Linked DNA regions of Homo sapiens: regions 1 and 3 are each linked to region 2. The links come from fine-mapping of genetic effects on gene expression. A gene starts in region 2. Each other region holds a variant in brackets. All regions are shown on one strand. Distances are from middle to middle.

What was found. PIP is the estimated chance that this variant, and not a neighbour inherited with it, causes the effect.
Region 1: its variant is the best candidate, but not a certain one, in a credible set for the expression of RGS16 in fibroblasts (GENCORD, PIP 0.52).
Region 3: its variant is the best candidate, but not a certain one, in a credible set for the expression of RGS16 in whole blood (TOPMed, PIP 0.54).

Annotation. Positions count from the first base shown.
Region 1 is chr1:182,698,691-182,701,451 of GRCh38, reverse strand. It overlaps a transcript of RGS8 not described here. Among named protein-coding and RNA genes, the nearest start is that of LINC01688, 13 kb to the left of the region's middle. The variant T/C (reference allele first, on the strand shown) is at 1,124.
Region 2 is chr1:182,602,976-182,605,736 of GRCh38, reverse strand. RGS16 (regulator of G protein signaling 16) reads left to right here and starts at 1,348. Exons shown (of 5, transcript NM_002928.4): 1 at 1,348-1,521; 2 at 2,398-2,508. The coding sequence starts at 1,478. RefSeq lists enhancers at 1,034-1,113, 1,584-1,633, 1,724-1,783.
Region 3 is chr1:182,623,010-182,625,770 of GRCh38, reverse strand. No RefSeq gene overlaps it. Among named protein-coding and RNA genes, the nearest start is that of LINC01686, 9.2 kb to the right of the region's middle. The variant T/C (reference allele first, on the strand shown) is at 1,239.

The DNA.
Region 1 (2,761 bases), 96 kb before region 2:
GGGAGCTGATAACTCCACCCTGCCTTTCCTTGGAGTCATCTCTCAGTGACCTGTGCCTTTGACCTGGCCTGAAATTCCCATTGCTATTATCACTTAGGGGTTGGATAACAATATTGAAGAACTGAATTTCTTTAGGAAGTCATGGATACATGTAATATCTACTTAGGAAGTCACAGAAGTCATCTGATGCCTGCTGCCCAATGAGGTTTCCTAAAATGCTGATTTATGATGTCACAATTCTGCTCAAAGAAATGCAATGGTTGCCTGTTGTCCATCAACTCAAAACCCTGCTATTCCGCCCCATGCCATTAATTTCACTTATTTGCCTCATTTGGGATGGAGCTACAAGTAGGTGAAGAAGAGGACCTAAATGTCACATTTGACACATTTAAAACCTTCTCAAGAAAACATGACAAACATGTTGGGTAAATTTATATGATGAATTTGTTACAATGATTCATAATATATGTAACTCATTCATTACAATGGGGAAGCTTAGAATATTGGACTGGGATTTGGAAAACTTGCACTTGAATCCCAGTTCTGCTATGTTACACATGATGAATCCTTAAATAATTACTTTTTTCTGGTGTCTTAATTTCCTCCAATGTAAGTAGTCCACTGGACTATCATGATGATCAAATTAGATGATTGTAAGAGTCCTTTTGAATACAAAGCTTCAAATTCAAAGCACTTTGAAATATGAAATTTCATCAGTTAACAAAAATTAGACATTGCATTAATTTTTAAATGCTGTTCGGTTTTGTGTACTTAGTAGAATGAGAACTCTAACAAAAAGCATTCAGTCTTTCTAAGACACTCATGACTTCCAGCAATTCTGCTATCTCCTGAAAGCTATGGGAATTAGAAGACGGAAGATGCACCCTGTGTCTTCTGCCGCCAGAGGCAGCCCGAGGCTGAACCTGGGGTGTCTCTTGGAATACCACCCTGGACTGGCACCTCCTTTCTCTTGAAAGAGAAACCAGGAAGAACAATGCTCATGGTTACGTTTTCGGGGAGGAATGCTGAGGTGTCAGATTGGTGCGCTTATTGAAATATACAGGGACAAAGTAACACACTGTAGACTAGCGTGTGTGTCGCGGGGAATGTTTTGGGGGTCATG[T/C]TGGGGTGAGTGGTTACACCTGCTTCCATCCATTTTCTAGGGCAAATGGCTTCAGCTGCTGCCCGGCAACAGCATTTTCATAAAAGCCTTTGAGAGTAGCTTTGAAAATGTGTCAGCCAATAACCGTGCAGGACCCGGCCTAACCGCCGAGGGATCCCCCTCCCCCTCGCCGGAGCCGAGAATTGGGAAGGAGCAGATGGAGCTAGTTCTCCCCTCGGCGGGCTCTGGGGCGCATTGTTATGCACTCAAGACTCAGAACCTGAGACCCAGGCGGGCTCTTCACAGGCTTCGCCCTGGATCCCGAGCTCGGGAAGGAGTTCTGTGAGCCCCTCCAGTCTCCTGCAGGGTGTGAGGTGCCGGATCTTATCCAGGGCAGGCACTGTGTGAGGGTGCGCCCTCCTGTTAAATTTGCCGTGAGACCTCTCATATGTCATTAATCAAGCAGCTGAACCGAGCTGGCACTGCTGGAACACGGCATTCATTATAGTCCCCGAGGGATCCCTTTCTGCAGATCCCAGAACTTTTGGCTCCAGGAATAGAGATATCCATCCTGCCAGGAAGGCCCCAGGCCTGCAGCACATTGCAGGCCTCTCAGGGGATTTTGCCTGTATCCCTCCCCGGTAATCCCGTTGCAATCCCCAGGGCTCTGTGAATCCCCTCGGATTCTTAAGGTCCCTGCAGCAACGAAGCAGGCTTTGGGGAGCCACAGCACAGGGAGAAGAGCCTCCAACAGGGATCTGTGTGGAAGTTTCTAAGGACACAGCTATGTGGCACGTGTCTAGCCTGTTTTGTAAAATGTTTTTCACTTTCCCCGTGGCATGTGCCAATCCCTGGGGGCTAAGAGTTAGGAAAGGCCTTGGGCCTGCTTTCCTTGGCCCCCTGCCACTGAGGCCTGGGCCCAGGGAACTAATCTTTGCTCCTGGGAAGATGGGAAGAGCTGCCTGTCTGCAGAAACCACCTCCTCCTCTCTACACTCCATCCCCTTCCACATACACCATGAAGCTCCTTCTTTGATTTCTAAGTACCGAGCCAGGCGAGAAACACCCATTTAGCCATGGCCCCCTTTCAATGTGTTTAATCCCAAATGGAATAAATAAAATGAAGGAAGGCCTGCCTCTGTGGTGATGTGGAAACCCCTCTGGCCCAGGGATGGAGGCATGCAGGGTGATGAAAGTACAGCAGCTGGAGAGGCGGCTTTTAATAAGAAAAGATGAATCAAAATGCGCAAGTCATAACTCCCTCTACGCAGCCACCTATCTTCTGCCTTAACCTTTTCAGAATCATAAAAAACAGTCTAATTTCTTCCAAATAAATAGCTTTATGCCTCTCTGGGCTCTATTTTTCAGGCATACAATAAGTCTCTGGGCGCTTACACAGACGTGCTGAATATATGTAACTCCACATTCATTACGGAGACATGTGTGCACACAGTCACACACACATTGTTCTAATTCCCCTTGGTCTAATTTATGCAGTGAATTCTGTGCTTACGAAGTAAGAATTATTTCAAGGTTAAACAAAATGATGATAAGCACCTGACTCTAGCTGGGGCAACTCTGCCCTTTTCTTAGGACTGGTGGAGTTTAGGACACCAAAAAAGGAATATGCTCAATAGCAAATTCACTCTCATCGTGATAA
Region 2 (2,761 bases):
CCTTGGAACCAGCTGGGGTCTCTGTTGAAATGGCATGGCCTTCAACTCCTCCCTCTGCCCAGACCTGCTTTCTTTACTCCCTCTTAATTCTGATAACTCTCCCCAGTAAACCTCCTGCATGCAAGTGTCTACCCGAGTCTAGTTCCTAGGAACTCAAACTAAGAATTAATTTATTTAGTTCTCACAACCACCTTATGAAATAAGTTGTTCTCTTCGTAGAGACAAGGAAATGGAGGCATAGAAAGGTTAAGCAGTTTGCCTCGTCTCCCATCAGTAGCCAGTTAACAGTGAACGTGGCCTTCCTGCAGCTGGGTCTTCAGCAGGTCACCTGGCAGAGCCATGACTTGAAACCTGAAAATCTAACTCTAGACCCTGTACTTTTAACCTCACATACAGCCTCTTAATAGCAATCCCAATGCCTTTATGGGAAGATGAGGTGAGAGGAAGGGCATTTATTACCTTTATGTCAGAGATGGAGACAATAAGGTATTAACTGCTTAAACCCAGGATCGTCCACAGGTATAGCCGTGACCGGGTACTAACCTTTGTGTGTGTGTGTGGTGTGTGTGTGTGTGTGTGTGTGTGTGTGTGCAATGGAAAAAGAATGGCAAATTCACATTTGAATTTTGGAGCCAACACTTACTAGCTGCACATCTTTGAGCAAGTTATTTAATAACTAAGACTTTGAGCAAGTCTTACTTATGTGCCTAGCACATAGTAGGTGTTCAATAAACTACTCATCCCTATTCCACTTTTCTGTCATCTCCAACTGTGATCTTGGACAAGTTTATTTAGCTTTCTGATTCTCGATTTCTTCATCTATAAAATGGAGATGATGATGAAGAGCTTACTTAGCCCCGTGTCCATCATGGTAAGAGCCTCGTAAAGGGTACTTATCAGTATAATCAGATGCTGTTTTGCCCAGGTTTGCACCCTGTGCGCCTGTCCTCAGGACCCAGCAGGCTCAGACTTGCCTGCGATCAAAGAAAGCCCTGTGTGCCTCCCAGACCCACCACCCCCGTGCAAACTCTCTCAACACGACACCGCTGCGTGACTTTCCTGCTGTTACTAGAGGTCGGCAGGTACTTTTCCCTAGGAAACTGGGTGTGCACGTCTCATCCCCGTGCCAATTCTCTTGCCGCTTTTCCTTCCACACGCGGCGTCCTCTGGGCGGAGGGTGCAGCTCCGCGTGCTCCAGCTGCCGCGAAAGTTGCACCCGGCCCAGTCTGGCTGCGGGCCCCGCCTCCGCCTTCTCAGCGCCCAGCCCCACCCTCCGATTGGTCAGCAGTGCCCAGCCCCGCCCCGCTCCTCCGAGGGGATTTAAAGCAGCGGCCGCTCAGTCTGGGCGCTTGCAGGCTGCTAAACCCAACCGCAGTTGACTAGCACCTGCTACCGCGCCTTTGCTTCCTGGCGCACGCGGAGCCTCCTGGAGCCTGCCACCATCCTGCCTACTACGTGCTGCCCTGCGCCCGCAGCCATGTGCCGCACCCTGGCCGCCTTCCCCACCACCTGCCTGGAGAGGTAAGGGGAGGTTGTCCAACTGCTTGGGGGAAGTCCCACCAACTCTTAGGGAGTGGAGCGGCAGGCCTGGGGACCTGGGTGGGCGCGGGGATGGGGCGCTAGAGGCTTGAGTAGAGAGGTAGAAGCGCACTTGATGCCACGTGCTCAGATTCCAGGAGCAGGGAGAAAGCAAGGGGAAGGGAAGCAAGGGCCCGCGGCTTGCTGCCATCCCCATCCTCTGACAAACTGCAGTCGTGCTCAGGTGACCTGCTGAAGACCCGGCTGCGGGAAGGCCACGTTGACATTTCCAGGCAGCACTGAGCCTGCCCATTTCTTAAGCATTTGTTTTTCATTCCTCAGACCAGAGCTAGGGGCATTGCCTCCTCTGCCCCTGGAAGACAGGGAGATTTTTTTTTTTTTGGTGGGGTGTGTGGGGGTGGGGGCTCCCACTGTTGAGGGTGTGTCCATATTCCAGAGAGCTACTCAACAGCTTCCAATCCTTACTGGCTGGGAAGGAAAAAGTAAAGATGAAGGCAGGAATCAGTTTCCCACACAGTTCAGAAATACTTCTGAAAAGAATGCTGAGTTCTTTTCTGAATCAACAGGCACGAAGAGAGATCAGTGTGACTTTAGGGAAAAGCCCATATATGCAGCGTGTGTATTACCCAGAAAGTGTAAGACCTACCACAGCATAGCTCAAACATTGCTTTTGTTGCTTTGGGGTTGATGATGCTGATAAGAGAAGCACTCTTGGCCTGGGGACAGCCAAGAGTTTCCAGGAACTCTTGAGGCTAAAGTTTGGGTGGCACCACCCAGAGCTCTTCTGGGACCCATAAACCTCTCCACACTGGCTGAGCAAATGAGAGAATGCTTTCATGTTCCTGATTTGTTTTTCAGAGCCAAAGAGTTCAAGACACGTCTGGGGATCTTTCTTCACAAATCAGAGCTGGGCTGCGATACTGGGAGTACTGGCAAGTTCGAGTGGGGCAGTAAACACAGCAAAGAGAAGTAAGTGTTGCTGACCAGCTCAGGGCTCCGAGAGGGAAGGGAGTGGGAAGGGAGTCATGAGGAGGGAAATACAGGGAGAAGCCAGGACACGCTAAGTGGACCTTGGCAACACCTCCCTAGAGATTTTAGTGGGACTTGTTGCTGGTCTGTTATGACTACTTGGCTCATGGGTGAGTGGGTAGGTGGCTCCAGGGCTCCAAGTCCATCCACGGATGAGGGCACACAGGGCATGAATGCCTAGTTCCCAGACTCT
Region 3 (2,761 bases), 20 kb before region 2:
TTTTAGTATTATACCTTATGCAGTATTTCCACCTTAAATAAATCTGGGGGGTAGAGCAGACACAATTATTCCCTACCATAGTGCAGATAAGGGGAATTGAGGCACACAAAGGTTATATGACTTGTCTAAGGTCAAACAACATGTTGCTGTCTAACCAGAACAACAGTCCTGGACTCTGGGCTCCAAGATCAGTATTTCAGCATTCAATGATGAGTGCTTATTGCTCTTCAAAAATATGGGCAGACAGACAAAAAAGAAGAGAGAGAATATACTATATGATTCCATTTATATACAACTCTAAAAAATGCAAACTAATCCATAGTGACAGAAAGCAGATCAGTGGTTGCCTGGGGCTAGGAGGGTGGGGAGGAGGGGAGCAGGGATTACACAGAGGCATGAGAGACTTTCGGGATAGTGGATGCGCCCACTCTTTTGATTGTGATGATTTCACTAGGTGTTTGCCTATGTCAAAACTTGTCAAGTTGTCCACTTCAACCATGTTAACTGTATGTTGATTATCCCTCACTAAAGCTATTTTAAAAAATATGGGCATAAATGACTCACTTGCTGGGCCTCCCTGCAATAATCATTTCCACCTTTTTAACATTTACAGAACATCCAAATACATGCTAGACATATAGAGGGGATATATGCAGAGGGGTACAATATCCCCCTGCCTTCATGGGGAAAATGCTTAAAAGAGAGGGTTTCAAACAGGGAAGTAAAGAGAACAAACATTTACCGAACATCAAACATATTATCTTTTTCAATCTTCACTAAACTCTACATGACGGATATTATCATCATATCCATTTTCCTGGTAAGGAAATTCTCAAGCCAGTAATAGCTGGGGTTTGAGGGAGCCAGTAACTAACACCTCTGCTTTTCACTCACTTCCTGAGTTCAGAACCCTTTGACACAGGAGTCAGATACCTGATGATGAAAACGTCAGCTTTATTACAGAAAAAGCTGGTTTTGAGGGCTTGGCTAAGAGCCACATGCTGCCAAATGGGTGTGCTAACAGATTCTCCTGAATTGAACTTAATTCTCAAACTGCAGACTTCCTCTCAGGCTCCACTAAACTTACCATAGAGTAGGAATTGTGGGTCTCCTGGGGACAGGCCACTCCTGAAGAGAAGTGAGTATGTCTGGTTCCTTTTTCTAAACTCACCAAGCAATGAGTTGCTACTTCTATGGGTAGGGCTTACTAGATTTAGGGGGAAAGTTGGGGAGAGAAG[T/C]CACAATTATAACTTTAGGGCAACCCCTTCTCATGAAAACATAGGAATCAAAAAGAAGTGTTGCCCTGAAAGGTTAAGTGGGATTCAGACCCAGATTCATGTTCTAAAGCAGTTATTACATCCATGGTTTTCATTCTAAAAATTTTGTGCAAACTAATTTATGTGCACCGAGTCCTAAATTAAATGGACTACAGGACATTGGATTTGAAGGAACACAGTGGTGAACTTTTTGCTAATGGGTGACTTTTTATATTCTTTCATTCATTTAAATAGTTTTTGTGCACCTATCCTGCAATAGGCCCTGAGCCCATCACTAGGCAGGCCAGGATAAATGTCCTGGCCTCTCCCTGTCCTCAGGGAGCTGGAGGACTCATCAGCCATCTCCAAGTTTCAGCTCTGGCCTCAGCTTTCTTTTTCAGCATATCTTCTGTTGACTGATTCCTTTTGTGCCTGCTATAACCAACAAACAGGATTTCTCCTTGAGGCCTCAACACATAACACCCCACTCCCTTTCTCATCCCTTGACTTTACTTATACTGTTTCCTATACCTGGAATCCAATTCAGTTAAGCAAACATTTTTGAGCATCTGCTGTGTTAGAGCTGTGAGAGGTAGAGCTACAAAAAGGAATAATATCTAGCTACAGTATCCTGTAAAGCTTGGCCTTTAAATGTTTAAATCCTATCCATCCTTCAAGGTCCACTTCCTCCATGAAGTCTTCTTAGGTTCCTCAATCAGCTGTAATCACTGGTATTTGCCTCAATTGTAGCTTTGAATGATGCTTTCACCTGCTGACCGAGGACTCCTCAGCCACCTGTACCTAAGGGAGCACAATGGGAATACCCCATAGTTCCATGACTCACCTCTATAGCCGCGTCCCTGAAAAATCGAGTCTTTCATTCCCATGCCTAAAATGTTGCTGCCCAGCATACAATGGGCAGGAAAGGACACAATCAATGGATGGCAAAGACCACCACTTACTTGGCCTCTCCCTATACCTTGCTTGGCTACCTCCCCCCGAGTTCACCTTTGCCTCAGTGGCAAAGGAAGACCCTCCTGTTGCCATGGCTACTGGTCCTCTCCCCATACCACTCTCCTGACCTCCCACCACATCCCCTGCACTTCAAGCTTGAATGCGCCTCAGCTGCAGATGCTCTCACCTCCCCCTCCAGTCCAGGACCTCAGCCTTTCCGGTCCTTCCTTTCATTCCTTCCCACAGTCCTAACCCTTCGCTAGGAAGCCAGAGCTGCTCTGTCCTGGGCCCAGAGCCAGGTTATATTTTGATGCAACCCTAGGGACTCTTTGGGGTTTTTTTCCAGGTTTAGACTTATCGAACATCTTGCCAGACCAGGGAATATAGTCAGATTTCTTTTTCTGCTGCCTATACAGGAAGGAGAAGTGGGGGAGTCCCCTTCTATTATTAGAGAAATTTTGGTTTGCAACAGAAATTCAACTCAAACCAGCATGAATAAAAGGGAGTTTTGGTGAGAATACTGGAACACCCCATGGAATCTGTGAGCAGAA